2 separate regions of the Homo sapiens genome follow, and region 2 is linked to region 1. The links come from fine-mapping of genetic effects on gene expression. A gene starts in region 1. The other region holds a variant in brackets. All regions are shown on one strand. Distances are between the middles of the regions.

Evidence for each region.
Region 2: its variant is fine-mapped to the expression of HES6 in whole blood (TOPMed, PIP above 0.99).

Annotation. Positions count from the first base shown.
Region 1 is chr2:238,233,676-238,247,997 of GRCh38, forward strand. HES6 (hes family bHLH transcription factor 6) reads right to left here and starts at 6,363. Exons shown (of 4, transcript NM_018645.6): 1 at 6,150-6,363; 2 at 5,986-6,072; 3 at 5,812-5,893; 4 at 4,592-5,576. The coding sequence starts at 6,230. The coding sequence ends at 5,152. It overlaps PER2 (period circadian regulator 2), which reads right to left. Exons shown (of 23, transcript NM_022817.3): 23 at 10,369-12,849. The coding sequence ends at 12,700. It also overlaps the pseudogene TARDBPP3. RefSeq lists enhancers at 567-1,068, 4,794-5,362, 7,263-7,768, 7,769-8,274, 12,473-13,672 and silencers at 769-898, 1,049-1,138, 6,086-6,605.
Region 2 is chr2:238,161,307-238,177,100 of GRCh38, forward strand. It overlaps ERFE (erythroferrone), which reads left to right. Exons shown (of 8, transcript NM_001291832.2): 2 at 288-410; 3 at 1,430-1,532; 4 at 2,431-2,693; 5 at 2,769-2,877; 6 at 2,964-3,054; 7 at 4,300-4,378; 8 at 5,650-7,584. The coding sequence ends at 5,748. ILKAP (ILK associated serine/threonine phosphatase) reads right to left here. Exons shown (of 12, transcript NM_030768.3): 10 at 12,228-12,347; 11 at 9,637-9,718; 12 at 9,096-9,370. The coding sequence ends at 9,230. Among named protein-coding and RNA genes, the nearest start is that of ERFE, 10 kb to the left of the region's middle. RefSeq lists an enhancer at 1,852-2,352. The variant T/C (reference allele first, on the strand shown) is at 8,190.

The DNA.
Region 1 (14,322 bases):
CATAGAGTCGTATCAACGCTGTGAACGCAAGGCTGTGATATGGAACTAGAAGGCTGTTTGAACTTTTGAAACCTTGTGTGGGATTGACGGTGGTGCTGAGGCATGAAAGGCTAGTATGAGTGAGAAAAGGAGAGAGCACGTGCAGAGACTTGGTGGTGCATAACGGATATTTTTTAACTTGGCGAGATGTGTTTCTCAATCCTGCGGCTTTGGTGACAGTGTGCAGACAGCAATGATAGCAAATAATGTACGAATGTTTTTTGCATTCAAAGGACATCCACATCTGTTGGAAGACTTTGAGTTTTTGTTCTTAGATAACCCACTTTATTTGAATGTGTTAAGTGAAATGATACTTGTACTCCCCCTACCCCTTTGTCAACTGCTGTGAATGCTGTATGGTGTGTGTTCTCTTCTGTTACTGATATGTAAGTGTGGCAATGTGAACTGAAGCTGATGGGCTGAGAACATGGACTGAGCTTGTGGTGTGCTTTGCAGGAGGACTTGGAAGCAGAGTTCAGCAGTGAACTCTGGTGTCTCAAAGAAGGGTAGAAGTTCTAATGTCTGTTAGCTACCCATAAGAATGCTGTTTGCTGCAGTTCTGTGTCCTGTGCTTGGATGCTTTTTATAAGAGTTGTCATTGTTGGAAATTCTTAAATAAAACTGATTTAAAAAAAAAAAACCAAAAATCTAAGTAAAGGGGTCGGAACTACATCTCCCAGGAGGCCCCGCGGCTCGCCTCTGGCGGGGCGGGGCTGGAGGGGGCGTGGTCAAGGCCTCGGCTCCTCCGAGCGCCTCCCAGCTCACGGCGCCCCCCGAACCCGGCTCCAAGGGACTCGGTATTCCCCAGCGCCGGCTCCGGGCAGTCCCGGAAGGGCTCAAGGGCTGGGCGACTGGCTGATCGAGACCGTCCGGGTCCTGGCTCTCGGGTCACTTGCAGAGGCCTGAGCAGAGCGTAGGGAGGGCTGGAAGGGAGGAGCCCCGGGGGGCGGCGGTGCTGAACCGGGTAGAGTCTTGAAGGTCACGGTCAGGACTGGAGTGGGAGGGGAGTCAGAGGCCTGCTGCGGAGGCCCAGGTTAGAAACGAGGCTGCCTTGGACTCGGTCGGTGGCAAAGAAGACGACACGTGGAGGCAGGGCTTAGAAGTAGAGCTCCGCCGGGCTTGGTGGCTCACGCCTGTAATCCCAGCACTTTGGGAGGCCTAGGCGGGCAGATCACGAGGTCAGGCGATCGAGACCATCCTGGCTAACACGGTGAAACCCCGTCTCTACTAAAAATAGAAAAAATTAGCCGAGCGTGGTGGCTGGCGCCTGTAGTCCCAGCTACTTGGGAGGCTGAGGCAGGAGAATTGCTTGAACCCAGGAGGCGGAGGTTGCAGTGAGCCTAGATCTCCCCCACTGCACTCCAGCCTGGGCGACAGAGTGAGACTCCGTCTCAAAATAATAATAATAATAATAAATTAATAAATAAAAATAAAAAAGAAGAAGAAGTAGTGCTCATGGGCTTGACTGATAGGACGTGGGATGGCAGGAAGAGGGTGAACTTGAGGGTGACATCTAGATTTTTTTGCTCAATCCATGGGGTACCAAGAAGTGGTAATGCCTGAGGATCTGTTGTTTTGGTGGTGGTGTGAGCCCATCTGACATCTAAGTGCAGTCACTGAGTGGACAGGAGGATACAGAGGAGCCAGCCGCCTGGAGAGGGGCTTTGAATCAAGGGCATGGGATTGGCAAAACGGGCCAGATGGTGTCACTGGGTGTGGGGGCGGCAGGGAAGGCTGAGGACAGAGCCTTGGGAAGAACACGTCCAGTTGGAGGGCGGCAGGGAAGGCTGAGGACAGAGCCTTGGGAAGAACACGTCCAGTTGGAGGTCGGCAGGGAGGAGCATTGAGTACAGGGGACTGAGGATGGCCGATGAGGTAGAAAGAAGGCTGGTGTGGTGCCCTTGAGACTGGAGAAGGAGCCTCCAGATGGATGAGTCATAACCCACGAGAAGTGAAGCTGACATGCGGACATGCCCACTGGGTTGGGAAACATGCTCGTTACTAGAGATTTTGACTGTGCAGTTCCAGTGGAAGGGTGGACAATAGCTTGATTGGAAAGGAATGAAGAGGAATGGGATGCGTGGAAGTGGAGGCAGTAAGTGTAGATGACGCTTTCAAGGAATTTTGCTTTAGAGCATTGAGACAGAGGCTAACAGTATGTCACATCCAGGGAGGTTCTTCCGAGTAAAGGTATTCATATTACAGCCCGTTTGTAGGTTAATGAGAATGATCCAGAAGGGAGGAGAAGCTAATGGTGCAGTGGAGAGCAGAGTCCCTGAGCAGGTGAGCAGGGATGGGGGCCCATGCCCATGTCGGAAGCGGGCGCCACACTGCTTCATGATGGAAGGCAGAACGCCTGGGCCAGGGTGCAGGCAGGTGTCACAGAGAATGTCCTTCATGACCACATCCTAGTTCCCAGAACCTGCGAATATGCTACTTTACATGGCAAAAGGGAGTTTGCAAATGTGATTAAGAATTAAGCTAAAGACCTTCATACAGGGAGATTATCCTGGATTCTCCAGGGGGCTGGTGTCATCACAAGGATCTTTAAAAGTAGAAGTAAGGAGGAGACGTGACCAAGGAAGAAGGGTCAGAGAGACGCAATGCTTCCGAGGAACTCTGAGGATGGAGGAAGGGACCATCCTCCAAGGAATGTGGGTGGCCCCTGAATGAAGAGGCAGGAGAAGGCACACAGCCCTGCCTGCCAACACCTTGATCTTAGCCCAGTGAATCCTGACAGACTTCTAACCCGTGGAACTGCAAGACAATAATCGTGTGTTTGAAGCCACCAAGAGTGTGGTCGTTGGTTTTGGCAGCCATAGAAAAGTAATACAGTGGGTCAGGGATCCGGGTGGGAAGGAGACAGCCCTCAGAGAAGGGATCCGGGTGGGAAGGAGACAGCCCTTAGAGAAGGGATCCGGGTGGGAAGGAGACAGCCCTCAGAGAAGGGCTTGTGGGGAGCCTGGGGGTGCTGGGAGAGGAGCTGGTGTGAAACAACCAGCTGGCTGGGAAGCTGGTGGCCCCAGGCTGCACCGCAGGCAAGAGCAGCTCTCAGCCCCAGGAGGCCAACAGTGGTCACTGGTGTGGGAGCCAGTTACATTTCCAAAAGAAGCTGCACTTGAGGATTACTGTGAAGCTGACTTTAGGGCTGGAGGGGCACAGGGCCAGAGTTCTGGGTTAGTGGCTTCTGACTCTGGTCCTAGCAACGCTTTTACTCCAGGTCAGCCTCCTGCACCTTGCCTCCTGGGCTTCCCCTTGACCCCCTCCTAGGGCATCTGGGAAGGTGTGATGAGTGGACTTGAGAGGTGAAAGTTGTTCCTTTGAAGCAGTCCATGGCTGATGCTCCCTGAATGGCATGAGAGCTCATTGGCATGGCCTCTGGGTGCTACTGGAAACCAGGGCTTTCAGGATGGCCCGTTATCCATCCGTGTCCTGGTGGGTACATCCTACATCAGCCTGTCTGAGGACATTAAAATAATCCCAGGAATGATATTTCCATTGCTCAAGACTTCTTCTGTGGCACTGGCTCCCCCACTGCCCCAATAGCTCGGCTCCAGATGATAAAGCTGCATCTGGTTATAGCCCAATGGCTTCTATGATTGAATTGAGGTGAGCCAGAGTGAACCTCAAACTTTGAAACACCCCTGGTGGCCAGGACCTGCTTGGGGGCTTTTGTAAAGGGGCTGCTGGGAAAGGTGTTCTTAAGGCAAAAGCACATGTCCAGAGAGGAGACCCCGACGTCAATCCTAAGTTGTCACACCTTGGCCCTAGCCTGGGGACTGCCAACCCACAGTGAGAAGCTGCTGCTTTGGGGTCCTGGAGCAGGAGGAGGGGGCTAGGCTAACTGTGGCGGTGACTTCAGCCGGCTGACCACGTGCTATCTGCAGGTCTGGCCGAGCCCAAGAGGGCAGGCTCCCGCACCCCAGCTGCCCATCCTGCCACCCTCCATCCCTGAGGGTTCTGACCTCCTGGACCCAGTTTGACCTAACGCTCAAGCCCCCTGGGGCCTTGGCGCTTTCATTTCAGGCCACAAACTGGGTGGGTCTCCTTGACCCTGAAGTCAATGGCAGCAGTGGGGAAGTTCCTTCTTCAGTCAAGATAAGCAACAACCTCACACAAGTAGACTCATGTCTATGTCATGCTCGTGGGTCCTAAAACAGGTCTTTAAAAGATACTTTCAAACCAAATAGGTAGCAATTAGGCATTATTTTATTATTCCTGAAGCTCATGAACAAGAAAATGGCACAGAGACAGGTCATCTCCCTATTGCTGAGTTACCCTGGAGACAAGCCTCATGCAAACAAACTCCTTCTCCAGGACACACAATGCCCAAGAACAGGCTGGGTCTGAGGACCTGCCTAGCATGGGGGGCAGAAGCACTGCCTGCTGCAGAGACAGCCACGGAGTGCATCCCCACCACCATCACACTGCTCACTCTGCTGAGAAAGGGTGAGGTTTTAAAGGACATTCACCAGCCTCAGATGCAGGGGAAATGTGCTTAGTTTAGCATTTACATATCTTGACACAGTAATGACACATCACTCAACAATACTTCAAGGGTAACTAACTCCAAAATTCTTTATTTAGTAAAATTGTCACATTTGATGTCAATGGAATACACAAACTCAAGTGTGCTACAAACAAGATGTACAGAGCATCACAGCTCTGGGCAGTGCAGCTCAGTGCACCTGCCTCTCATCTCCCCGCTGAAGTGGCAAGTTCAAGCTTTTGTTTAGCCCAGGGCTGCCTGGAACACTAGTGCCCAGCACCATTTCTGCCACCTCTGCCCCCAGAGCCCGCACAGGGCTGGTGAAGCCTGGGTGGGTGAACCTGGGAGAGCGCTGGCAGCTCTACAAAATTCTTCCTCCTGCCCGTAGCTCCCTCCCTCCACCCACTCCAGAGCTGCAGGGTCCCTAAAAGTTTCTTAAGAAACGGGGCTGGGGCCTGACTGGGCTGGTTACCAGGGGCTGCCCTGCAAGCCATCCATCAGAGGAGGGAGGGAAGACCTGGGAGACTTCCAGGGCCCTACCCCACCACATCTGAACCCCTGGGAGGAGGGAGGAGATCCAGGGAGGGCCGGGCCCACCCCCGCAGGACTCTGGCTGGCATTGGTCACCAAGGCCTCCAGACACTCCGGGCAATTTGGGCTGTGGTCAGGCTGCCCAGGGCTGCGGGCACCAAGTCGGGCCCCTCAGCAGGAGCCTGACTCAGTTCAGCCTCAGGGGCCTCCTCCAGGTCGGAGCACAGGTCGTCCCCAGGACCCGGGGGGCTGGGTATTGGGGATCCCGGAGCGCCCCCCGCAGGCCAGCCACTCCGTCCAGGGGCTCTAGGTGGCCCCGCCAGGGCGTCCCCCAGCAGATCCTGGAAGCTGCTGCCCTCACGCAGCGGCATGGACTCGAGCAGATGGTTCAGGAGCTCGGCAGCGACGGTAGCGTCGATGGCCTGGCACGTGGACACGAACGTGTGCACCTCGTGCATGCACTGGATGTAGCCGGCAGCGAAGCGCTCGCTCGCTTCCGCCTGCAGCTGCTCGCGCTCTGGGCCCGAGGGTGGGAGGGAGAGAGCCGCGTCCCGCGCGGTGAGCGGCGACTGCGTGGCCCAGCCCACCCGGCCCGCGGGGACGCGGCTCACCCAGGAGACGCGGGGGCGCACCCTGCTCCGGTGGGAGCCCTCGCCGCCGACAGGACAGGGGCGCCGGGAGGGAAGTCCTCCGTCTGGCAGGGGTTACAGGCGCCCGCGGCCGGCGCCCCCGCCCGCCCCGCCGCCACTCACCGCGCGCCCGGCCCCGCAGCACACCCTGGACCCGCCGCACCGTCAGCTCCAGCACTTCGGCGTTCTCCAGCTTGGCCTGCACCTGCGCGGGCGGGAAGGGCGGTGAGCCGGCAGCGCGCTCCCGGACCCGCCCGCCCGCCCCGCAGCCCCACGGCGCCTGCCCGGCCGCCGCACCTCGGCGCCCGCCAGCAGCAGCCGCAGCTCCTGCAGGCTCTCGTTGATCCGCGCGCGCCGCTTCTTCTCCACCAGGGGCTTCCGGGCCTGCGGGGAGCGGGGCACTGAATCCCAGCCCCGCACGGCCTCCCGCCCGCTTGCTCGCCCATGGCCCCGGCCCGCACCTTGCGGTCCCCTCGCGTCTCCCAGCCGTCCTCATCCTCACGGCCCACACGGTCCCGGCCAGGCGCCGCGGGTGGCGCCATGCCCGCTCCGCCGGGGACGCGGCAGGGGCTAGGAGCAGCGGGGACGGGGAGCGGCGGGGACCGGAGTGCCGGCGCCCTCCGCTGCCCCGCGGCCGCCCAGCAGCAGCCCAGCCGTCCGCGCTCCTCGCGGCTTCCGGCCCGCCGCGGTCCCGCCCCTTTTATAGCCGCTTATTTGCATCTCAATGCGCCGATTGGCCGCGCGGGCCCGGGGCGGCCGACCGCGAGGCGCGCTGCAGCCAATCGGGGCAGCGCGCTTTGTCCGGCCCAGCGGCTCTGGCGGTCGGGCAGCTGGCTGAGCTAGGCGGGGCCCCCAGCCCGGCCTTCCCTAGACCCCCGCGGGGGCGGCACCGGGGCGGCGACCCCGGGTAGCTGCGGCCCTGCCCGCGCTTGTTTCTCTCCGTCTGCTGCTCTAGGACCACTGATCTGCCGCGCGTGCGAGCAGGCGTCCACCCGTCCGTCCGTCCGTCCGTCCACTCATTCATTCACCCATTAATTCATTCATTTCCCTCCTTCGCCGATGGCGCCTCCAGAGTTGAGCGCTGGGGCCACTGGCCCCAGGAGATGCGTCCCTGGTGTGCAGAGCCACAGTCAAGTCCGCGGTCTCTGGACCTAGAGGGGTTTCAGGTCCCGGCTGGGGTGGCTGCCAAGCCCCGGGGAGGCAGGGTCCATTGGGCAGCGGTGGCGGGGCGGCCCCTGAGTTTCTTCCGGACTCGTCCAGACGCCGGGCCGGACCCCCGACGCCGCCCTCCGCCAGCACTGGAGTCCTAGTGGGGCGGGGTCCCGGGTGCTCCCGCCCGCGCCGCTCTCCCCCTGGGCTCTGCGGGTCACCAGCCCCGCCCCCCTCTGAGCTCCCCCATCTCCCTCTAGTCCCCTTTGGCCCCCGGGGCCCCCTCCCTCCCTTCCACTGCCCCCCGCCCGCCTCCCTCCTCCCCTCCTCGTCCTCCGCGCCCCGCCTCCCAGGCCCGCCGAAGCTGCCGTCTGGTCCTGTAACTTGATGCCCGTGACAGTTGGCAGCTGCGGCCGCTTCGGCGGAGAAAAGCGAGAAAAGCGGCGGCCGCGCCAAGAGCGACAGGTGTTGGCCGCGCCTTTGTCTCGCACCCTTTGTCCGGCGGGCAGGCGGCGGGCGCTTGTCCCGGCCAGACGCCCGCGACTCCCCCATCGCGGCGGGCCGCCCATCTGCTGGGTTCCTCTTGGCCGCGGGCGGGGTGCGTGGGCGGTGGGGCCGCGCCCTCGGGCAGCGTCCTGGGGACCCCTGCCCGGCTCCTGCCCCGGCGTCAGTCCAGACGCTGTGTGGAGGAGCCGGAACGGGAGACGCCTTCTCGGACCCCAGCCGGCCGACTACCAGCCTGCCCCGCACAGCACCTGCCTTCCTCAGTCCCCACTACTCACCCGGGCTGGGATCGTCAGGGTCTGTTCTGAGCCCCTCCAGGCTATAAGCGTCCCTGGACAAGGGCACAGTCTGACCTAGGACCCCCTGTCCACCTCCCCGCACCCCCAGCAGAGCCTGGCCTCACAGAAGCGCTGGTAGGTAGGGAAGGTGAGGGGTGGCCCTGGCAGGATGGGCTGGAAGGCCGCGTGGGAGGGGAACATCACGGGACCGCAGCAGCTGAGCGGAGCGGCAGGACTAGGCTGCAGACCGACCGCCCCACTGCCCCTAGAGAGGTCTGACAGGCCTCCCATGGCCCCTTTACTTGCGCCTCTCCACCAGAGGGACCCCTGCAGGCTTCCTGCTGGGTGAGTTTGGTGAGAGGTTTGAAAGCTCCCAAAGTCACCTCACTGACCTCTGTAATTACCTGGGACCCCCTCCCGCTGGCTCCCAACTGTCCCTGCTCTGGCTCTTGGTTGCTCTATGAGCAGGGTCCTGAGACTTCCCCCAGCCCAGCATCACTCACCTGGGTGTGAAACTACCGCTTTACTTCACACACTCCCCACCTGCCCAGTAGTGGGGCTGGCAGGGTGGGGCTGGAGTGGTGGATCCCAAGGAAGTGGATTATTAGCCTGTGACTTTACTCTCCTTCACCACTTAGACATCACCCCAGGGAAGGAGAACCTCCACTCCCCCAAGTGGCTACAATGACATTTCCACTACTTCGAGAAACTGTGATAGGGAAAAATAAACTCACTGATATTTCCTGTACTCCCAAGTTTGCAAACTGATTTACACTCCTCTCATTATCCAAACGAACAAGGCCAAGTAGATGTTTTAGGATGCTCTCATCCTAAAACATCTGCTTTATGTTAGGCAATTTATATTGCAACAGGATGATCAGGGCCCCAAAAGAGGACTTTGGGTAAAGCCTGACTGAACACTTGATTGGATGGGGAACTGGATTTGAGGGGCAAGGAGGACATGATAAAGGCAAATGGTGCAAGCAAAAAAAAAGAAAGAAAAGCAACTAGGAACTCTAGGAAAAACAAAAAGCTTCCCAAGAAATGTAATCTTAGCACATTACTTGGCTCAGGAGACAATTTTCACAGTCACAACAATGTAACAGTGTTCATAGGGTTTTAACATTTAGAATTAATCTATACAGAAGGCAAGGAAGGATTGTTTATGGTTATGGGACATGATATAAAGTTGACCTTGTAAAAACAAAAGGACAGGTGATAGGAGTTATGAGAGAGGAGGCTAAAGGGAGGACTAGGGACCTCAAAAGCCTTGTCTGACAGTGGAGTGGGTGGAGGGTTGAGGAATGCTGTCTAGAGTTGAGGGAGGGAGAAATTAAGCACTGGGATATGCCTCGGTGTGACCAAGGATCCTACAGGGAAAAGAGCTTAAGTAGAGAAGGCTGTACATCAGCAAAATCCTTCTTGGTTGGACTGGAAGTTGCCCAAGGTCCCCTCTGCAAGGTCAGCTTCAATTCCCTTTAGCGGTGCACTGGCCAGCTGGCATGGCCTTTTTGTCCCAGAAGCCTGGCCTATCTTGAGGTCACCAAGCCCTCCCTCCCTCCTTCACAGCAGCCTCCCCTAGCCAACACTTCCTGCCATTTGTCCCTTGGGCCAGTCCTGCCTTCAAAGTTTGCCTGAGTATGGACTTCCTGAGCATTTGAGTCCTTTGATCCCCCTAGAGCCAGGAACAGAGGCCAGCAGAGGCTGGGCAGGGTGGTGGTTGCTGCGGGGATACCAGTTAGCAGTGGGGGTGGCAGGCCATAAATCCCTGGGGGAACAAAGGCAGCTGCGGCCTGTAGACTGTCCAGGCCCCTTGTGGGCAATCTGCCCAGGAGACTCAGAGAATCTCCGTTTGGTTTGGAAATAAATCCCTTGGGGTTATATGGTAAATAAAAATACAATTAAGAGTCTTCCAAAAGCACTCAGGTTCAGTGAAACAACCATATCTGGCCATTTAGAGCAGTTTGCAGAGGCCTCTGTGCTCGCTAGGGAGGACTTTGCCTTTTATCCCATCAGCACTTGGCGTTAGGCAGCCAGGCTAGCAGGCAGAGGAGAGCCCCTCCCTTCTGCTCAGGGAGCTTCTCAGAGGCTGGGCATTGGGTTCAGGATCCATTCAGCTCTCTGCTCCCACCCCCAGGGTCATGGTTTGAAGAGTGGGAGGGATGGGGAGCAACTCTTCGGGCTTCCACAGTTTTGGCCTCACAAGGCTTCATTCATCACTGTGAAAGAAGGGCTGGGGTCAGGGGACTATGCCGCCCTGCCCATATCATTCGCAATGGAGACATGTGACCTTCCTGGTGGAGCCTCCTGACCGCCCCACCTTTAGCCCTACCTAGCCCGATGACCAGAAGACAGGCAGCCAGCCTGGAAAGGCCAGGTAACCCAGGGCAGGGATGCAGGGAAGACAGAGGTGCGTGGAGGCAGAGCTGGGGGCACTCTGGGGCTGAGCCAGACAGCTGCACCCCTCCAACTAAAAGTGAAAAGACTGTGGGGCATGACACGATTAGGTTTGCATTACGTGAGTTCACTCCTGCAGCCTGAAGGAGGGTGTGTGTGTGACACGCACAGGAAGAAAGGGAGCCAGCAAGAAGCAAACGCTATAAGGGAGCTGACCGCCAGGAGGCCTTTGGGATGTAAGATTCTTTAATGCAGAATTCCTGGAGTTCTTTAAAAAAATTTTTTTTAAATAATCTTTGCTCTCTATTCAGGTTTTCCTTTGTGCTATGTGAAAAATACATACAAGTAAAAATAAAAATATACTTGCTTTATTTACCAATTTTCTAAAAGGCAAACAGGTCATAAAAAGACACAAGCAGTCAAACAAATCTATTGCACTGGGTAAAGAAAGTTTGGTTTGCACACAAACAAACCACTTGTCCAGCAAGGCTCAACAAATCATCACAGAAACTCTGAGAGCTTATTTACATATCTCTTCGGGAATATATTAAAAAGAAGGCTCAGTTTAAAATAGAGAAAAACTGTTTAACACCTGTGTAAGCACACACACTAAAGAAAACATGACTTGATGCTTGGCATCACGTAAACAAATTCACAAGATGATCCTATTAAGTCAACTGCTTGGCACGCGCTGAAGCTACAGTTAACAATCAGTGAGCACATATTAAATGATAAAATAATGCTGATGGTAAACATTCATAACAGCAGAGTAAGATTTTGGCAGTTTTGTGTTTCGGTAACATAACTGTAACCTTAGATGAACACCTATCCCTTCATGATCTGACTTTAGAGGCAAGGAGTTTGTAACATCTAATGGCCATAAGAATGCAGACTGCTACCTTATCATAGGCATAGGCAGCTGATGTTACTTTGTAAATTAACGAAAAATTAAAGTGTTCTTGTGTTTATGAAGAATAGGTTTAATAGTCAGGCATAAGATGGTTTTACGATGAAAACCTAGTGGATTACAAAGAGATTTCACCTCCATCAAAAAACAGAAAACCCTGGTCCCAGTTGGGCGTGGTGGCTCACGCCTGTAATCCCAGCACTTTGGGAGGCCGAGGTGGGTGGATCGCTTGAGGTCAGGAGTTCGAGACCAGCCTGGCCAACATGGTGAAACCCTGTCTCTACTAAAAATACAAAAAATTAGCTGGGTGTGGTGGCAGTCGCCTGTGGTCCCAGCTACTCAGGAGGCTGAGGCAGGAGAATCGCTTGAACCTGGGAGGCAGAGGTTGCAGTGAGCCAAGATGGCGCCACTGCACTCCAGCCTGGGCAAAAAGAAACTCCATCTAAAAAAAAAAAAAAAAAAAAAAAAAAAAGAAAACCCTGGTCCCTTTTAAGCCTCATAGTCTTGGTCCAATTTTAAGTCAACTGTTCTTCAGTGATAACTTTGAATTTCCACCAGGGACCAATATTAAATTTTCTGAACCATCTTTGGAATATACAATGCAACATGAGGTTTTGTAAAAAGCCGGGCAGACTGGCCTCACTTTTCCCCAAGTGTCCAAATGACCTAAAAGTGCTGGGGACACTGGCAGAGGCCTGAAGCTGCTCCGAGAGAGGTCGGGCTCATGAAAAGAATGAGGGCTGTGCACCCAACCCAGGGTGCAGTGGGAGAGGTGAGCTCACTGCACCCCTGAAAATACAGATGCAGTCGCAAGCTGTCAGACTGAGTGGCAGTGGCTGCTCTCGGCCAGGAGATGTGATGTGGGCTTGGCTGGGTGGAAGCAGATGTCTGGGTGGTTCCAACGGAAGAAAACCAAACAGGACTGGGTCTCACATGTGTTGGTCACAGCCTGGTTTGCAAAGGGAAGTCACCATAAAGAGATGACTGATGACATATTTTAATCTCCATATTGGCCATCATGGTCTGAAAAGGAGACAAGAATAATGCAGAAATATACAGAGGGTCTGTCTGCGTGTGCATTCATCCGATGGAGTTGGCCACACAAACCACTAGGCTTCTTTAGTCCAGAGCAAATGTTTCAACTTTGTTCACTACAAACAAAACCTATGTCAGACTGAAATATTGACCACACCAGAAGCCAAAGCTGTTGGTTTGCCAAACAACGCTTCACACCATTTAATGTGAAACGTTTTGAAATAAAACTAGGAGAGGCTGCTATCTCCATTTGGTATGTATAAAAAAACACTCTACCTTGACTAAATGATAATTCAGATAAAAAGCAGTCCCCAAGAGAGGACAAAATTTGATCTGATCCAAACACCCTGGGAAAGCTCTGGAAGCCAGAGTCCCCAGCTGGTGCAGCAGACAGAGGTCTCGTCACAGTCACAGGACTTCTGGGAGCACTGAGGCAACTTCCCTGACACTAAGAGGCGCTTAGTCTTTCTCAAGTTAAATAACAACTAAAATCTCTTCCCCATCCCACAAAACTCCACATATATATTTTATATATAAAAACATATTTCTTTCCGAACTCTCCCCACTCTCCACAGTTTTAAGTCGCCCCTTCAGAAAACTATGTTGTTTTTTTTTCTAAAACAAAAAAAGCAACATGAGCATATGTGTCCATTTCAGTGGAAACAGCCATGAAGATCTTTCATCTCTTCCAAGCACCACCTGGTGTACCTCGCTGGCTGCCGGGCTGAGGTGGGGCAGGGGTTACGTCTGCTCTTCGATCCTGTGATTCAAGGGGGATCCATTTTCGTCTTCTTTGGTGTCCGACACTTCGCTGAGTCCCAGAGAAGGAATATCTTCCTCATATGGTATGCAAATATTACCTTTTTCCTTGTTTTCACAGTAAACACATTCCTTAAAAGAAAAAAAAAGAGAAATCAGTAACAAACTTGAGATCTGAGTTGTTACAAAAGTCATTCAAATTGGCCGGGCGCGGTGGCTCACGCCTGTAATCCCAGCACTTTGGGAGGCCGAGGCGGGCAGATCACGACGTCAGGAGATCGAGACCTTCCTGGCTAACACGGTGAAATCCCATCTCTACTAATAATACAAAAAATTAGCTGGGCGTGGTGGCAGGCACCTGTAGTCCCAGCTACTTGGGAGGCTGAGGCAGAAGAATCGCTTGAACCCTGGAGGCAGAGCTTGCAGTGAGCGGAGATCACGCTACTGTGCTCCAGCCTGGGCGACAGAGTGAGACTCTGTCTCAAAAGATAAAAAGTCATTCAAACTGAGTAAGGTGCAGGTGACCAGGTGTCAGCCAGGAGGTGGCTGGCAGCAAAGGCCAAAATCCCTGTCCCAGGAGCTGGCACTCTAGTAGCAGAGAGAGACAATAACTAAGAAGGGCTCCAGAGGCATAGGGTATATAGAGGACATCTGTGATTTTCAACTGGACATTCACAGCAGGCCAAAGAAAAGGTGACGCAATGATTTTGAAACGTGTCCACACTCTTTGCCACTCCTTCCTCAAAAGGTGGGGCCTAATTCCTTTCTCCTTAAACCTTGGCTGGACTTAGGCATTTGCCTCTAACAAAGAGTACCTGACTTCTGATTCTAGGTCCTAAAAGGCACCTTGGCTTCCTCTTTTCCTCTCTGGGGAAGTCACCTGCTACACTGTGAGGACATCCAGGCAGCCCTACGGAGAGGTCCCCATGGCAAGGAGCTGAGGCCTCTGCCAAGAGCCAGCAGTGTGTGAGAGGCCTGCAAGTGAGGCTCCTGGAAGCCGGTCCTCCAGCTGGCAGGTGACAGAAGCCCCCACCAGTATCTTACCGTCAACATCAGGAACGACCCTGAGCTAGAAGTACCCAGCTAAGCCGCTCTCAAATTCCTGACCCAAAGAGACCGTGCAAGGTAATACAAGTTCATTGTTGAAGTCACTAAGCGTTGGGGCCATCTGCCATGCAGCAGCAGATTACTAATGCAGCAGCGGGTGGAAAACAGACTCTAAGGCAGCCAGGGTGAGCCACGGGTCTATTTCAGGAAAAAGGATTCCAAGCAAAGGGCTGGGCATGTGCGAAGATCCTGTGGCAGGGGCCTGCCAGGGCAGTCGGGGAAACAGCCAAGGGGCCAGTGTAGCTGGAGAGGAGGGAAGGAGAGGAAAAATGGGAGATGAGGTAGAAGATGTGGATAGGTGGTCAGATGTGTATGGCTTTGCAACCATTTATTCTGATTGAGGTGGCACAGTGCTGGCAGGAATCTGAACTGTCACCGGAGGTGACACAGGGAGCAGTGAGTGCAGCTTCGAGGCCACTCTGACATCCAGGGTTCATGCCATGGAAGCATCCTCATGGCTTGGACCTGTGTGGTGATGGGCTTCATCTACCTTCAAGG
Region 2 (15,794 bases), 72 kb before region 1:
AGCCCTGCACCCCATTTTCCCTCCAGGCATCTTGGGTCTGCCTCTCCCATGAGTGCCAAGTCCAGGCCGAGGTGTGGCCCGTTCCCTAGGAGTCATCCTCCACGGGCCGGGGGAGAAGCTGTGAGGGGTTGGGGCCCCTTTGGGAGCTGCCTTTGAGGGCACCACAGGTGACAAGGACCAGGGTCCCAGAGTACAGAAGGCCACACAGTCACCTCCTGCAAAGTGTCCCACCTGCTTGGTAGGAGCCCAGTGAGGCCAACCGCCCTGCTGGGCTGGCTGTGTTCCAGGAGCCCACCGCTGAGCGTGCACACAGCGTCGACCCCCGGGACGCCTGGATGCTCTTCGTCAGGCAGAGTGACAAGGGTGTCAATGGCAAGAAGAGGAGCAGGGGCAAGGCCAAGAAGCTGAAGGTGAGGCCGGCATCCCGTCAGTGCCAGGCCGTGGGGGGTTCCGCCTCCTCGCTCCTCATCCACTCCCACTCCTACATCCTGAACATTTCCAATAGCACACCCCTCACGCCTCGGCCTGGGGACAGAGAACAGAGAGAACCCAGGCAGCCCCAGGGGGAGCCCCGAGTTAGGGGCCTGGTCCCAACCATTTCCCCACACCCCTAAAATGCCAGGCTCTCCCTCTTTTCTCCTCCCTCTGCATCCAGGCCAGGGAGGCTGGGCTAGCCCAGGCTGTGGTGAGAACCTTGTCCACACTGGAGGGGCCTGCAGGAGTGCCTGGCTCCCAGGGACTAGGGGCACAGGGTCCCTCTCACCCTCACTCAGCCTTAGGTCTTGGCCTGGGCAGAAACTTGGTGCTTGGTCCTGGTGCTGCCTCCTGCTTGGAGCCCCCAAAATGGAAAATACGGGGTGTGGGCTTCTCTGTCCCCTGGGGGCCAGTATCACCTGCCTGGGATCTGAACACACGATGGAAGGCCAGCTCGGAGTGCATGAGGCAGGTGCACAGGCCGCGCTGTCCTCGTGGCCTGGCCTTCTACCTCTGCCCAGCCTCCTGGCCCTGCCCTAAGCTTCTCCCCACAGGGGGCTCACTGGCTTCTGGTTCGGGTCCCAACCCAGCCTAGTGGGGACCTGCTGATGGTGGACTCGGGCCCAGTGCAGACCCTGAGATGCAAGTCCCCAAAAGCAGCCTAGAGTCTTCTTCCCTCCACGAGGCCTGGCCGCAGGAGCGGGCTTCAGCCCTCTGCCTCCCCACTCAGAGCAGAGTCCTTCCCTGCCAAAGCCCCGCCCCGAGGGCCCCCACCTCCAGCACAGTCCTTGTACTCACTCCAGGAGAAGCTTTCACTGAGGTAGATCCTTGGCTGGAGGTTGGAGCCCACTGGGGAGCTCTGTTGCCTGCCTCTTAGTGGCAAGAGCTTGCACAGGGGATGCTGTGGCTCCCAGCCTGCTCCTCACATGTCCTCACTGCCAAGGTTCCCTTTCAGTTCGGCTTGCCAGGGCCCCCTGGGCCTCCCGGTCCCCAGGGCCCCCCAGGCCCCATCATCCCACCCGAGGCGCTGCTGAAGGAGTTCCAGCTGCTGCTGAAAGGTAGGGGTGTGCACCGGCTGGGACACACACACCCCGCTGTGAGCAGGGCCTGGGAGGGTGTCCCGAGGAGCTGACAGGGCCAACCTCAACACTTCGGCGGGCACCCAAGGAGGCACCTGCTCTGGGCTGGACTCAAGGACAGTAGAGCTGGCCAGGTCCAGTCTCTGCCCCATCTTGGCCCATGTCTGCCAAGGGTCAGGGCTGGGGATGGCTGGGGGTTGGGAACCATGGCCAGGAGAAGGCTTCACAGAGGAAGGTGGACCTGGCCACTCAGTATGGCGGGTGCTCAGGGACCAGCGCCTATGCCCTGCCTGGAAGTCAGGAGAGCCCAGCGAAAGGCAGAGGCTAGTGTATGGGGCAGCACCAGGTGGAGCTCAGCCTGGCACCCACAGTCACCACTGGCCAGGGCTGGGGCAGCCTGCCCTGGAGGAGGCAGGGCTGAGTGGAGCCGCGGAGTCCACACTGAGGCCTCCTGCAGAGCGGCGGCTCACATTAGTCATTAGAATTGAGCCGTTTTTTCCTTTTAGTTCAATGTCCTGTTCGTTTAAATATAGCACCTTCTGCGCTGAAGAACCTCCTTGTACTTCCAGTAAAGCTGCAATCGCTTATTTTACCCCCAGCGTCTTTGGAAAATGTGGGTGGGGTAGAGGTGAGGCTGGAGGCCAAGGGCGCTGGGGCACTTCTGCCCGAGCTTCCCAAATCTTGAGGGAAACGGGAGCCGCTGCAGGGTCAGGACGCAAAGACTCCGAGGCCCTTCAGGCCGAGGGGACGTCGCCCTCGCCCCACCCCTGCGCCCGGCAGGCCCCTGGTCTCGCTAGCACCTGTCGTTCAGGGCTGGACCCACGCGGCGGGCGGGTGAGGGGTCCCTGGCGCGCGGCCACCGCTCGCTCTGTGCCAGGTGCGGTGCGGCAGCGGGAGCGCGCGGAGCCCGAACCCTGTACGTGTGGCCCCGCCGGGCCGGTCGCTGCGAGCCTCGCCCCGGTCTCGGCCACCGCCGGGGAGGACGACGACGACGTGGTGGGGGACGTGCTGGCACTGCTGGCCGCGCCCCTGGCCCCGGGGCCGCGGGCGCCGCGCGTGGAGGCCGCTTTCCTCTGCCGCCTGCGCCGGGACGCGTTGGTGGAGCGGCGCGCGCTGCACGAGCTTGGCGTCTACTACCTGGTGAGTGCCGGCGCGCGGGAGGGCGGGTGAGTCCGGCCGGGCGGGAGCCGGGGTGACCATCCGTGCCCCTCGCAGCCCGACGCCGAGGGTGCCTTCCGCCGCGGCCCGGGCCTGAACTTGACCAGCGGCCAGTACAGGGCGCCCGTGGCTGGCTTCTACGCTCTCGCCGCCACGCTGCACGTGGGTGAGGCCCGGGGCGTGGGAGGATCGCCCGCTCTGTCGCCCACCCCGCCGCCCGCCCGCTTGACCACGTCCCACCCTCCCCCGCAGCGCTCGGGGAGCCGCCGAGGAGGGGGCCGCCGCGCCCCCGGGACCACCTGCGCCTGCTCATCTGCATCCAGTCCCGGTGCCAGCGCAACGCGTGAGTGTACCCCGGCCCGGACCCCACACCCGCATTCGCTCGGCCTCCACAAGCTGGAGGTGGTTAAACAGGCACTGGACGGGGCTTCCGCCCGTTCACACCCCACCGTGGCCTAGGTGACCCCACACCTTCTTCCAGGTCTCCCGGTCTACTTCTGCCCCTATCAGGCCTTCCCTTCACAGCAACTGGGAGCTGTTAAAAATGACCTTTCCAGCTGGGCGCGGTGGCTCACGCCTGTAATCGCAGCACTTTGGGAGGCCGAGGCGGGCGGATCACGAGGTCAGGAGATCGAGACCATCCTGGCTAACATGGTGAAACCCCGTCTCTACTAAAAATACAAAAAATTACCCGGGCGTGGTGGGTGCCTGTAATCCCAGCTACTTGGGAGGCTGAGGCAGGAGAATGGCGTGAACCCGGGAGGCGGAGCTTGCAGTGAGCAGAGATAGCGCCACTGCACTCCAGCCTGGGCAACAGAGCGAGACTCCGTCTCAAAAAAACAAACAACAACAACAAAAAAAAACCTTTCCAGGCCACTCCCTGCCCAGACCTTCACCTCCTCCCCAGGTCCTAGGAGGCCGGGCTCCTCCTAGCCTCCCAACTCCTTCCCACCTCAGGGACTTTCATCTTGGGGCTCGAAGCACCAGTGTTACTTCAAGAGGCCTCTCCAGACAGCTTTCTGGAGGCCCCCTCCTCAGTCGCCCTCCCACTCCTCACCCGGGAACTTTCTTCCCCATGATCGCATCCCTTGCTCCTGCACCATCTGGCCCACGAGTGCAGTGACTGTGAGCTCCCTGTCTCCCCACACCCAGAAGGGAGCCCAGGTACAGCGGAGATACCCTGCGGGTAGGATAGCTGGAGCAGACTTGAATGAATGGATCAAGTCCAAAACTTCTTAGTCTGCCTTTGAACCCCCAGAGTGTGTTGGCCTGAACTAACTTAGCATCACCTGCCACCACATCCCCACTTCCGGCTGCATCAGCCAGTGTCCTGTTTCCCATCAGAGCCAGGGCTTTGCTGCCTCTTGCTGGGCCCTCGCCTTGCCTTTCCCAATACAGCAAGCATGCCTCTGGCCCTGTGTCCTTCCTCCTCTTGGGGACTCGGTTCAGACACCACCTCCACTGGAAGACCTGGCCAGGGTCAGGCACTTTGCTGGGCATGTGTTGGCTGCTGGCAGGATTGTGTGTCGTAGGTGAAGTTGGTGGGGTCTCATGGGGCAGGCTGACCCTCCCTCTGTTTTGGGTACAGCTCCCTGGAGGCCATCATGGGCCTGGAGAGCAGCAGTGAGCTCTTCACCATCTCTGTGAATGGCGTCCTGTACCTGCAGGTGAGTGCGGCAGGCTTGGGCATCGAGGGGCACCGCCTGGGCATGGCCACGGGTGGCTGGGTGCAGAAGGGTGCTGTTAGATGCTCAGGATCACTGGGTCGGGTGCAGCACCCTCAGACTCCAGGCCTGGGAGAGGGTCCAGGACATGCCAAGTTCTCACTTTGGTCTGGGCGCAGCCAGGCTTCAAGTCCTGATCTCCTTCCTCCAAACACAGCCCTTCCCCGAGGGCACCTGCCCGCTTGAGCAGCTGCTCCGCTCTGCATTCCCAATATTCAGACTCCCTGAGCACCTCATCCTGAGGCCCAGTACTCCTGGCCACCACAAGCCCGCTGAAGGGACTGGTGCAGGGAGGGAATGGAGGCCAGCACTCTGCCCAGGCTGACGCCCTGAGTCCCCTGTGACTATGGGAAGCCAGATACGTTATTTTCCTACCCAAAACCCTAAGTGACCATCTCTGGCACTGTGGGAATTTTGGCAAGTGGTAGAGAAATGGACATAAAGGTGGAATTTACTAACAAAGAAAACAATTGAGTGCAGGTGTGTGGAATAACAGCTGCTATTGAATTCTCCCAGAGCTTTGGAGAAGGTAGAGCTACTCCCCGAGTTAGCCCAAGTTCACACAGCAGAGCCAGAAATGGAGGCCAGGCTGTCTGGCCCAGAGTCTGTGCTTGCTGAAAGGCATTTAGAGGTCCCTTCTGGGTGCCACACAGCATGCTTGGTGAACTCAGATGGTCTCTGCCCCACCTGGATCTTAAGATGCAGATCCTGAGGCAGGTCTGGGTGGATCCCAGATTCTGCATTTCTGGGAGTTCCCAGGGAATGTGACACTGCTGGTGCATGACCACGCTGCTGGTGCATGACCACGTTTGGAGCAGCCAGGCTAGAGTGCTGGTTTCACGGAAGGCTCTGCCAAATGACTGCCTGTGGGGAAGGGCCACCCTCCCACCTGACTTGGAGCCCTTGCAGGCTCTGAGAAGCCCTGCAGCTGAGAAACCTGTTGGACTCTTGAATCCCACTCTGGCCTTGAGCAGGGGCCCACTCCCACACACGCGAACTGTAGGGCGCTGCAGGGAAAGCAGAAGAGGTGCTGGGTGGGGCCCAACCCGTGCGGGCCCTTGCTCTGTGACCTTGGCGGCCACATTCTTCTCTGGGCCTGAGCCCTTCCCAAAAGCGGGGCTGAGTGGGCAGGAGGGAGTGTGGCTGGCTGGCCCTTGGGTCACCTCTGCAGGCTGTTGGGGTGGCCCAGTGCCTCAAAGGCACCCTCCTTGCAGATGGGGCAGTGGACCTCCGTGTTCTTGGACAACGCCAGCGGCTGCTCCCTCACAGTGCGCAGTGGCTCCCACTTCAGTGCTGTCCTCCTGGGCGTGTGAGCGGCCACCACAGGCCCTTCCTCTCAGGGGCAAATGGAGCACAGATCTAGACAATGTGTGGACAGTGTCAGAGTAGCAGTGGCCACATGGAGGAGGAGGCCCACCCGGAACTCTGCCCACACTGGCCACTGCAGTTCAGCCCACAGAGCCACTGCAGGCAGGCCTACGGACGTGACACGCACGCTGGTGGTCCCGGAGCCAGGGTTGATTCAGGACACCATCTTGGGCTCTTATCCAGGAAAGAAAGAGTCGGCGTGCCTGGGGGCACCTGCTAGTCTCCAGCTGCAGGCCGACTCTTTCCTGGCCTGCTCAGCACCTGCCCAGATGGCCTCTGCGTCTTTCCTGTGCCCAGCCCCACCTTTTCCACCTCTCTTCATGTTCTCATGGAGTGCAAAGTGCACCAGCCAGGGCCCCTACCTGGGAGAGGGTCAGCTGACGCAGGGCTGAGGGGGCTGCCACAGGGACGTACGCTGTGTGTTCTTACTGCTTAGAAGGGACGGGGTCACTCACCACTCCCCTGGTCTCCATCTGGGCTCCTTGGTCTTCCCTGCCCCTCCCCTAACCGTGTTCTACCTGCCAGTGGAGCTGAGCACTGCCTAGCCTGGGCCAGAGGGGCACTGGACAAGGGCCTTTGGGGGACAGTAAGTCTGGGCCCAGCTTCTAGTTCTAATGTGTGCAAGATTAACTCACAAATTCACCTCAGAAGGCCTTTCCAAATGGGAGCTCCACTCTTCCCCTCCTCTGCAAATCTTCACAGCCAAGGCCCCTTCCACCCTCTCCAGAGGTGGATGAGATCCCTTTTCCCCTCCCCTCTGAGGTGCTGACTCACTGGTAGGAGCCACCCACCAGAGGAAAGATCTAGAACGTCTTTACAGATTGGAGACAGCCGGGCCTGCTGACCCATCATCCGAATAGCTGAAGCAGAGTCTTCCACCAGGGGTGCCAGGGCCTGGCTGGGTCCAGCGGCTCTGGGATGAGCCTCCCAAGCATCTTTCCCACTTGGGTGGCCATGCGGCGCTGACATTGGACAGGTGGTGGACGAGAGATGGTCCCGAGAAAGGGTGGTCTTGGGAGGGCTGGTCCCAAGCCTGCTGTGCTCCTGTGGCAGTGATGGGGCCTGGGGATGGGGACGGCAGCTCTCATGAGGACACACAGGCTGTGAGCCCGCAGCCTCCTCAAATGTAGCCTCCCACATTTTCCCCAAAGTACAGGACTGTCCCAGAGTAGGTAGTGAAGAGGACAAGGCCCTCGGCAGCGACCTCCAGGGCCTCCTACCTGCTGAGGAAGAGTTAACCCACTGCCTCCCCACACAACAGGCTACGAAGAACCTGGTGCCTCAGGACCTCCTGGGAGCCAAGCTGGTCTGGCAAGGGCGCTCAGGCCTGGGAGAGAAGGGAGCAATGGCCAGTCACCTTCACCTTCTAACTAACTAGCCTCCGGATGAGGTGGCTGCCACCAGGCCCGAATGATCCCCAGGAGCCCAGCTTCCAAACCCCAACATCGAATCAAACATCTCCATCCCCAAGTGCAGTAACACACAAAAACCAAACACTCTGCCCTGGGAAAGGCCTGGTGCGATTCTCAGTAGGACTCACACCCACCCTACCTAGAAGTACTGGGCTGGCCTGGGTACTGCATCCGTGTGTTTTGATAAGGGGGTGATGTGGCCACGCCCTTATCTAGATTTCACTTTGTATCCACTGGGCACAGATATTCTAGAGAACTTATCTTTCACTCTTGTAAAAGCCACATATCCACATCTCTTTCATTTTTCTCAGTGTGTTATGCAGCAATTTATTAAAGTATTTATTGTCTAATAAATACTGCCAAGTGGAATATATTTATATAACTGACTTCGTGGGGTGGTTCAAGTACTTACTTAAGAACTATGTGACACAACAGTTACAAAACAAAAGGCAGACCTTAAGATCCGGAATCAATCCTTTAGCCCAGGTTCACTAAACTAAGCACAGTAAGGAGGAACCTGGAAGGTGAAGTGGAGATGGCCTCCAGCCTCTACGTGGGAGGGACTCCCTTGAAGGCTGGGAGTGAACCTTCCTGGGAAACTAGGGTCAAGCCTCTCGGGAACAGTGGGACATAGGGATGTATGAGTCACAGACATCAGTGTGCAAACACCTGGTTTGCTATAGGAAGATAGTTACCAAATGAATGGTTCTATTTCCTGATTCTGGGGTGCCAGGGCTCTTTTCTTCAATGAGGCCACACTGTACAATGTCCCAGTCCTCAAACTGAAATGGGTACTTGGCTCTTAAAACTCCCTGGGGAAGGAAGGGGCAGCACCAACACTTCGTTCAGTTCTTACTTGTGGCTTTTACACAACAGACCCCCAGGAGGCATCTAAGGTTTACATGAAGCCTTTACCACTGAGGTCCTCGCAGCATGGATACCAATTCCACTCAATCAACTGGGTGATAAAACCA[T/C]GTGTGTGTGTTGGGTGGGGGCCAGGGAACATTACAAAACAGATTCTGAAAACGCAAATTTTTAGAATCTTACATCATCCTGAGCCAAACATTTACACAAAAGGATCCAAGAGCTGCTTTACTAAAAACTACTTACAGTCATAATGATGACGTTTTCTATATAAACAAGTGCTTGAAAAGTATTTTAAAGCTTATTCTTCTGAGCTTATTATTCTTCATGCACTCTTTTCATGCTTTTAACATCTTTAACAGAAGTGTCCCCCTTTGAGGTGTTATTGCAAAGATTAACCTCATTCCAGCACAGGGCCAACTCCCCACACCTACCTCACGTGGGAAGCAGAATTTCCGGGCCATGCTGAGCAGCCGGCTGCCTGCTCCAACAGGAAGGTGCACACCTACACCCAGGGAGTCCAGATGGAAGCCACTGAACCGAGTCCTCCACAGACTCCTTCCACCAGACTGCAGCTCTCACCAATGGAATGAGAATGGCTAATTCTGTACTGTTTCTGGCAGGTCTGATGCATGAGTAACCTTGTCTATGAGTCTATTTCCTGGCTAAGCCTGAGCTCATGCTATGTAACATTTTGCAACACTATTTCCATAGGGAAAACTGAAAAGAGCTAGAGGGTTCCCAAAGCCCTGGTCTGGGCCTAGCCTTGACTAACCAGTCATCCCCTGGGTCTCTTCATTGCAACATGCCACTTCCCCAACCAGGGTCATCATGACAGTGAAAGCACAGCAAAATGCCCGTGAACTACAAAACATCACACAACCAGCAGCCTGCAGGCCACTACGAGCCAGTCCAAGATGCCTATAATGGTTTTAACAAGGAAAGACAGCATATTCAAAAGCAAACACAATCTCTGAAGGGTCAAGAGGTGCTCACAGTATAATAACTCAAAAGACTAGGAAAAAAAAAGAGAAACCTTTATTTACAACCATGGGAGTCCCACAGGAGTACACAAAACACACAATGTGCACACACACAAAATGAACCTTTTAAGTCAATACCATGCGTGCTCCTGGCCGCGCGCCACCCCTCAGTGCCCTATCCGCACCACCATCACAGTGACGTTGTCGGCCGAGCCCCGCTGCACCGCCTTGTTGGCCAGCCTGTTGCAGGCTGCTTCGTAGCGGGCGTCGGCTGCGGACTTCCCTTCCCGGGTCTGGATCTTTTCATCCTACCAGATGAGAAAGGGAATGAGTGAATGGAGTGACCCCGCACCCTGTCACTTTCCTGAGACATGACTGCCAGGAAGAAGAGCTGCTCTGGTCTCCATCAGGGCTGGCAGGACAAACTGACCAGTGAGTCAGTAGGCAGAGTTCACACTGAAAAAGGGCACAAGGGCTGTCCCACAATGGGAGGAAATGGGGTCTCAGAACTTCTACTTCTCTGAAAACTAAGACACAATTGGGACAACCACCACCCCCGTGTGAGATTTCTCACCTCGAGACAGGACAAGATGAAGTTCACGGCTTCTTCTGGGGTAAAGACCTTGAAGAGCCCATCACAGGCCAACAAAATGAACCTACAACACCAGGGAGAAATATAAACGGGTTTTAGGCCCAACCAAAAAATAAAAAATAAAAAAAGGGCCTGGAGATGGAGATAAAATAAATATTTGTCCAACTATTCAAAGGCTAAGGTTTTTTTTTTCTTTTTTCTTTTTTTTTTTTTTTTGAGATGGAGTTTCACTCTTGTTGCCCAGGCTGGAGTGCAATGACGCAATCTTGGCTCACTGCAACCTCCACCTTCCCAGTTTAAGCTGTTCTCCTGCCTCAGCCTCCTGAGTAGCTGGGATTACAGGTGCCCGGCACCACGCCCGGGTAATTTTTTGTATTTTTAGTAGAGACAGGGTTTCACCACGTTGGCCAGGCTGGTCTCAAACTCCTAACCTCAGGTGATTCACCTGCCTCAGCCTCCCAAAGTGCTGGGATTACAGGCATGAGCCACAGCGCCTGGCCAGGCTAAGATTTGTTTAAACCCACTTAATTTCTGAGACAAAGGTTTAAACTACTTACAAGTATTTGTGGATAGGATGTTATACATCAAAACTGAGACTATCCTTCTCTTCGCCAATTAACAGAATTATTAATTACCTCAAACATTAGGTGCTGTACTTTCTTAGGCAAACTCCAGAAAAATCACTGAATAAAAACATGGGTGTTATGGTAAATATACAAGAATTTATAACACCATAGGCCTTACACCACTTCCAGACATAAAGCTGAGAATGAGCCCAGCCTCGGTGAAACATCCTTGGGCACACACTGCACAGCTTGGGGCTGCATCCAAGACCGAGGCCCAAGAAGGGGCAGCTGTGCGTGTTCCTGTGTTTGAAAACCACATGCTCTCCCTTTCAGAATCAAACCCCCCTAGACCGTCCCTGGAATCTTTCTGAACACCAATGGATTCAATGTGACAGTTCTAGTTTTCCTGGCATTGGGGGTGGGGAATACGCATCCCCACAGCTTTGCGGTATAAGCCACCCTCCTTTTCTCACTGTAATATCTGTGGGGTTTTTTTGTGTTTTTTTTTCTTTGTTTTTTGTTGCTGCTGCTGCTGTTGTTGTTGAGGCGGACTTTCCCTCTTGTTGCCCAGGCTGGAGAGCAATGGCATGATCTCGCTCACTGTAACCTCCGCCTCCCAGGTTCAAGTGATTCTCCTGCCTCAGCCTCCTGAGTAGCTGGGATTACAGGCGCCCACCACCACGCCTGGCTAATTTTTGTATTTTTGGTAGAGATGAGGTTTTGCCATGTTGGCCAGGCTGGCCTCAAACTCCTGACCACAGGTGATCCACCTGCCTCCGCCTCCCAAAGTGTTGGGATTACAGGCGTGAGCCACCACACCCAGCCTGTTTTCCTCGTTTAACTAGGCTTTCACTCGGCCGCTACTTGCCGAGCCTATCGTCCATGCTGAGAACACCGTGGGGCCTAGTCCTGGCAGGCTCCCACCCCTTCCAGTGTCCTGAGACTCAGACCCTCAATAACCAATCACACAGACCCATGACTACAACCCAGGAAGGCGAGCTAGGAAGCAAAGCAGAAGGTGCATCCTTCAGAACACCAGAGGCGGCGGCTGCTGGAGAGATGATGGAGGACCCCGCGGTACGTGAGAACATGACAAACACACTGAAGAAGATGTGGAGAATGGGGCAGTGGCTCAAGACAAGGCCAAGCAGGCGAGTGCCAAAGCAAGGCACGCGCTCTTCATCCGCAGCACTGGGGCGGGACTCAGAGCAGCACTCGGAGGCCCACTCGCCACAGTGCCACTAGTGTCTCTGGCCTCCCCTCATCAACTCAGTGCTGTGAATCCTGCTTCCGGGAGCTTTCCTTGACCCCTCCTGCTACTGCCTTAGTTCAGCCCTTCATCATCAGGCCAGGGCTGCTGCACCGCTGCTCACAGGCCTCCCTAGCCCCATAATGCCATCTTTAACCATCACCTGTTGAGGCCCTGCCCTCAGCCAGCACGGTGCCGTACCCTTAGGCATGGAGAACAGGAGATGAACAGGTGAACTGTCTCTTTCTCAACCGATCCTGGCTCTGTGTAAAAACCTATGATTCTCCACCAATGATCAACTAAAGTTCAAACTCTCCAGCATGGGGCTGAGGGCCGGCCCTTCAGGATCTGCCCCCAAAGTACCCTGCTATCACTTTCCCACCACTCCCTCCGTCCCTCAAGCGCCTGTCTGGCCATGCTTTCACACTGTCACATTTTAATGCCTTACTGTGTGTTCCCTCTGCCAGGAAGCCCCTTCTCCTCTCTCTGACAGGGATAACCCCTTCCCCTACTGCCAAAGACCCCAGCACACAGCACATGCCTAGGACACACTGGACTGCAGCTGCCCATCCCCATGTGTCCCCCCCTACCACTGTGGACCCCACCAGAGCAGAAACCACATTTTGTTTATCTCTGCACCCCCAGGGCCTAGCACCATGCACACCTTCCCTCCAACAAAGGCTTGATAGAAACTGGAAGTGAGGAAGAGAAATAAACCCACATGCACACACACCTGTGCCTCTTATAGGGCCTTTTACCTGTCATTGGGGGTCAGCTGGCAGCGTCTGATGTCGGGCACAGAGGTGACACCGCAGCGCTTGTACTGCCCGTCCCCAATGGAGCGTGACACCTCTAGCACGCCCAAAACACGCCCATCCCTAAAATGAGAGGAAAAACATTTCAGACTCTACCTGACAGATTATGGGTCCACAGTACTTAGAATCTCACCTTAAAAGCAGAGAATGGAAGTGTGAAAGATACAGACTGTGGAATTCACATTATTAACCACTACTGACATTTCTTGATCTCAAATATGCAGGGGTGTCTAGGCCATTAACTGCTGCCCTGGGGTAGGGACCCTGCCCAGCTGCACATGGGTGGGAACAGCACCTCCAGTGGCTGCCAAGCAGTGCTGCCCAGCTTAACCTTCGACAGGACTCAGCAGTTCTCATCACACACCTAGGTCCCAACTCCAGAATCGGATTTGACTGACTGGGTAAGGGAGCCTGGCAGTGTTTTGTATCTTAAAGCTCCTTGAGTGTTTCCCACATGCAGCCAGGGTTAACAATAGCTAGAACAGAGGGATATTTTGCATTTCAATCTAATTAGATTTGGAAAATCCCTGAAAGTGGCTATTCCTGGATTGTGGAGCACATGTCCTTTGCATCAAGTACAGGTACGGTTTAATGTTAATGTAAATGACAGTATCCTGCATAGCATCATAGTTTCACCCATTCTATTTTAGGTGAGGGGATATGGAGGAGATGGGGCAGTGATCTACAAATGGGAAGAGACATCTAAGGGACAGTCCTATTGCCAAGGAAAAACCATTTGGGGAAGCCTACTGCCCCAAAGAACAATTCTGGTCTAGGCTGCAGCACTGTCACCTTAGGCAGCTGCAAGCTCTCTCCCCTTCAGGCCCTTGTTTGTAAAGGCAAGGCAGAGAACCATACTCAACGTGTGAGAGAGCACTCCGCAAATGCCACGGCTGCGCATGGGCGTTTAAGATCACCACGGGGCTCCCAAATCATGGACCAAGCAAGTTCAGGAGATGCGGTGCAGATGGCTGCACATGGTAGGAAATGCTTCCTGGGCTGCTGTCCTAAAGGCAGAATTCAGCCTGGCCCTTCTCTGGGCCCCAGTTACCCTCTCAGTGGCTCACAGGTCAGTATCCGTAACAAACATGTTTTTTCTTCTTCAAAGACTTCTGCTGGTATCTGCAAAAAGCCTAGCGATCTTCTAGGATACAAACTGTTAAATAGCAAGAGGAAACAGTGCACAGGGGAAGAGCTGAGGACTGAAGATGGGTGGGGGCACCTGGCCTTAAGAGTGCCACTTCAGGAAGCAGCTCACAGTGTAAGTACTATGAAAAGCCAACAAAGTACCTCTCCCATGACCAGGTGACTGGGTGTCTGGTGTGGCTTCCGGCCATCCCAGTCATAAATCCATCCTGTTTCAACAAGATTAAGATTACAATCACCACGTCTGCAATGGCAGGTCCCAGAAGACCAAGTAGCTACCAGCAACTTCTGGTACTGCACAACACAGTACAGACAATGTGAAACAATCTCTAAGTCTAAAGAAGGACAATATGAGCAGCACAGGAACTGCCATCTCTCATTCTCTCTTTTTTTTTTTAAGAGACAGGGTCTCCCTCTGTTGCCCAGGCTGGAGGGCAGTGGTGCAATCACTCGCTGGGCTCAAGTGATCCTCCCACCTCAGCCTCCTGAGTAGCTAGAACTACAGGTGTCACCAAGTCCAGGTAAATAAAAAAAAAATTTTTTTTGTACAGATGGGGTGTTGCCCAGGCTGGTCCTTAAACAATTAGCCTCAAGCAGTCCTCCCACCTCAGCCTCCCAAAGTGCTGAGATTACAGGCGTAATGTGGCCTCATTCTTGTTTTCAAAGTTCCATATACAGAGTAGTAATCTTACATTCACTGAACTGCTAGAGTAACAGGAGAAAGCACAATGGACAGAATGACAGATCCCAGGAAACGCGTTTGGTAACGATGAGGCAAGCTGCCCTGGCACTATGCCTACACTCAATGCGATGTCCTACGTAGGATGTGCACATTCAAATACCTGTCAGTTCAACAAAGGCCAATCACAGAGTCCCATCTCTGAGATCGAGCATCACACAAGGGTAAATCCATGCCACCTCTGTTCTGGAAACTTTGGTACAAGTTCAAAAGGATCACCACTGATGAAGCTGGTTGGGACTCAGCCCCACCAGCCCCACAGGCTTCGTCCTTCCCAGTCTGCTTTATCCATTTCACCGGAACTCTTTTTTGTTTTTAAGAGAAAAGGTCCTGCTATGTTGCCCAGACTGGAGTGCAGTGGCTATTCACAGACATGGTGGCGCATTATAGCTTCAAGCTCCTGGACTCAAATGATCCTCCTGCCTCAGCCTCCAAGTGGCTGGGACTACAGGCGCATGCCACCAATACATACTCTATCCACATCCATTTCTTAGAAAGTCTGCGCTACTCTAGACACAATAGAAAGCTGTCTGTTTCACAGCAGGTTCTCCCCGTTGCCCAGTTTTCAAAGTTCAAACAAACTGCCCAAAGTTCATTCTCTTTCCCCTTCCCTCAGTTTCCCCCCCACCCTCATAATTACAATGCTTAGCAAGTAGTGGCTTTTTTTTTTTTTTTTGAGACAGAGTCTCACTCTATTGCCCAGGCTGGAGTGCAGTGGCATGATCTCGACTCACTGCAACCTCTGCCGCCTGGGTTCAAGTGATCCTCCTGCCTCAACCTCCCGAGTAGCTGGGATTACAGGTGCCTGCCACCGTGCCAGCTAATTTTTTTATTTTTAGTAGAGATGGGGTTTCACCATCCTGGCCAGGCTGGTCTTGAACTCCTGACCTCGTGATCCACCCGCCTTGGCCCCCCAAAGTGCTGGGATTACAGGCGTGAGCCACCACGCCTGGCCAAGTAGTGGCATTTTAAGTCTCAGCCTACCAAGCCAATCTGCCTGTCCCTTGGTACCAGCCCTCATTAGGACTGGCCTCCTGCCCTTACACACTTCCAACTTTTGCTTTGTGCTGCTTTATTTCTCTTCTCTGTTTTCTGCCAACCAGAAAACTGTTTTCCTACTGTTGGACAAGCTGTTCAACAGTGTCTTCAGATCTTAGCTAGTTTTGTTGATATTTTCTGTTCTTTCTCCAGAGAGAGAGAGAGAGACTGGGTGAGACTGAGACATCCTACTACTTGTGTGTTTAAGGCTAATCTGGCTGCTAAAGGCAGCTGGAAGCTGCTTGGTCTTCAGCTCCTCTTGCATGTCAGTAAAAGCAAGACACAGCTGGTCTCAATAAACAGACTATCCACAAGTGATGTTTGCAAAGTTAAGGTTGGGAGGTGGAAGCTCCATCTCCTGACCATCCAAAGACTGGTGGATGCCTAAATCCAACATATTAATACAATGAGTGCTACAGAGATAACCAAAGGTACAATGCTAGAACAGTTACTTTTGGTTATCAGAGGCCTGCACTTGATCAAGTTCTAGGCACACAGTACTGACATTTAAATTTAAATGCTATATGTAAACTTCCCATCTGTTCAGCTGCCTTCCTTGTAAAATAAAAATAAAACTTGTCTTAATC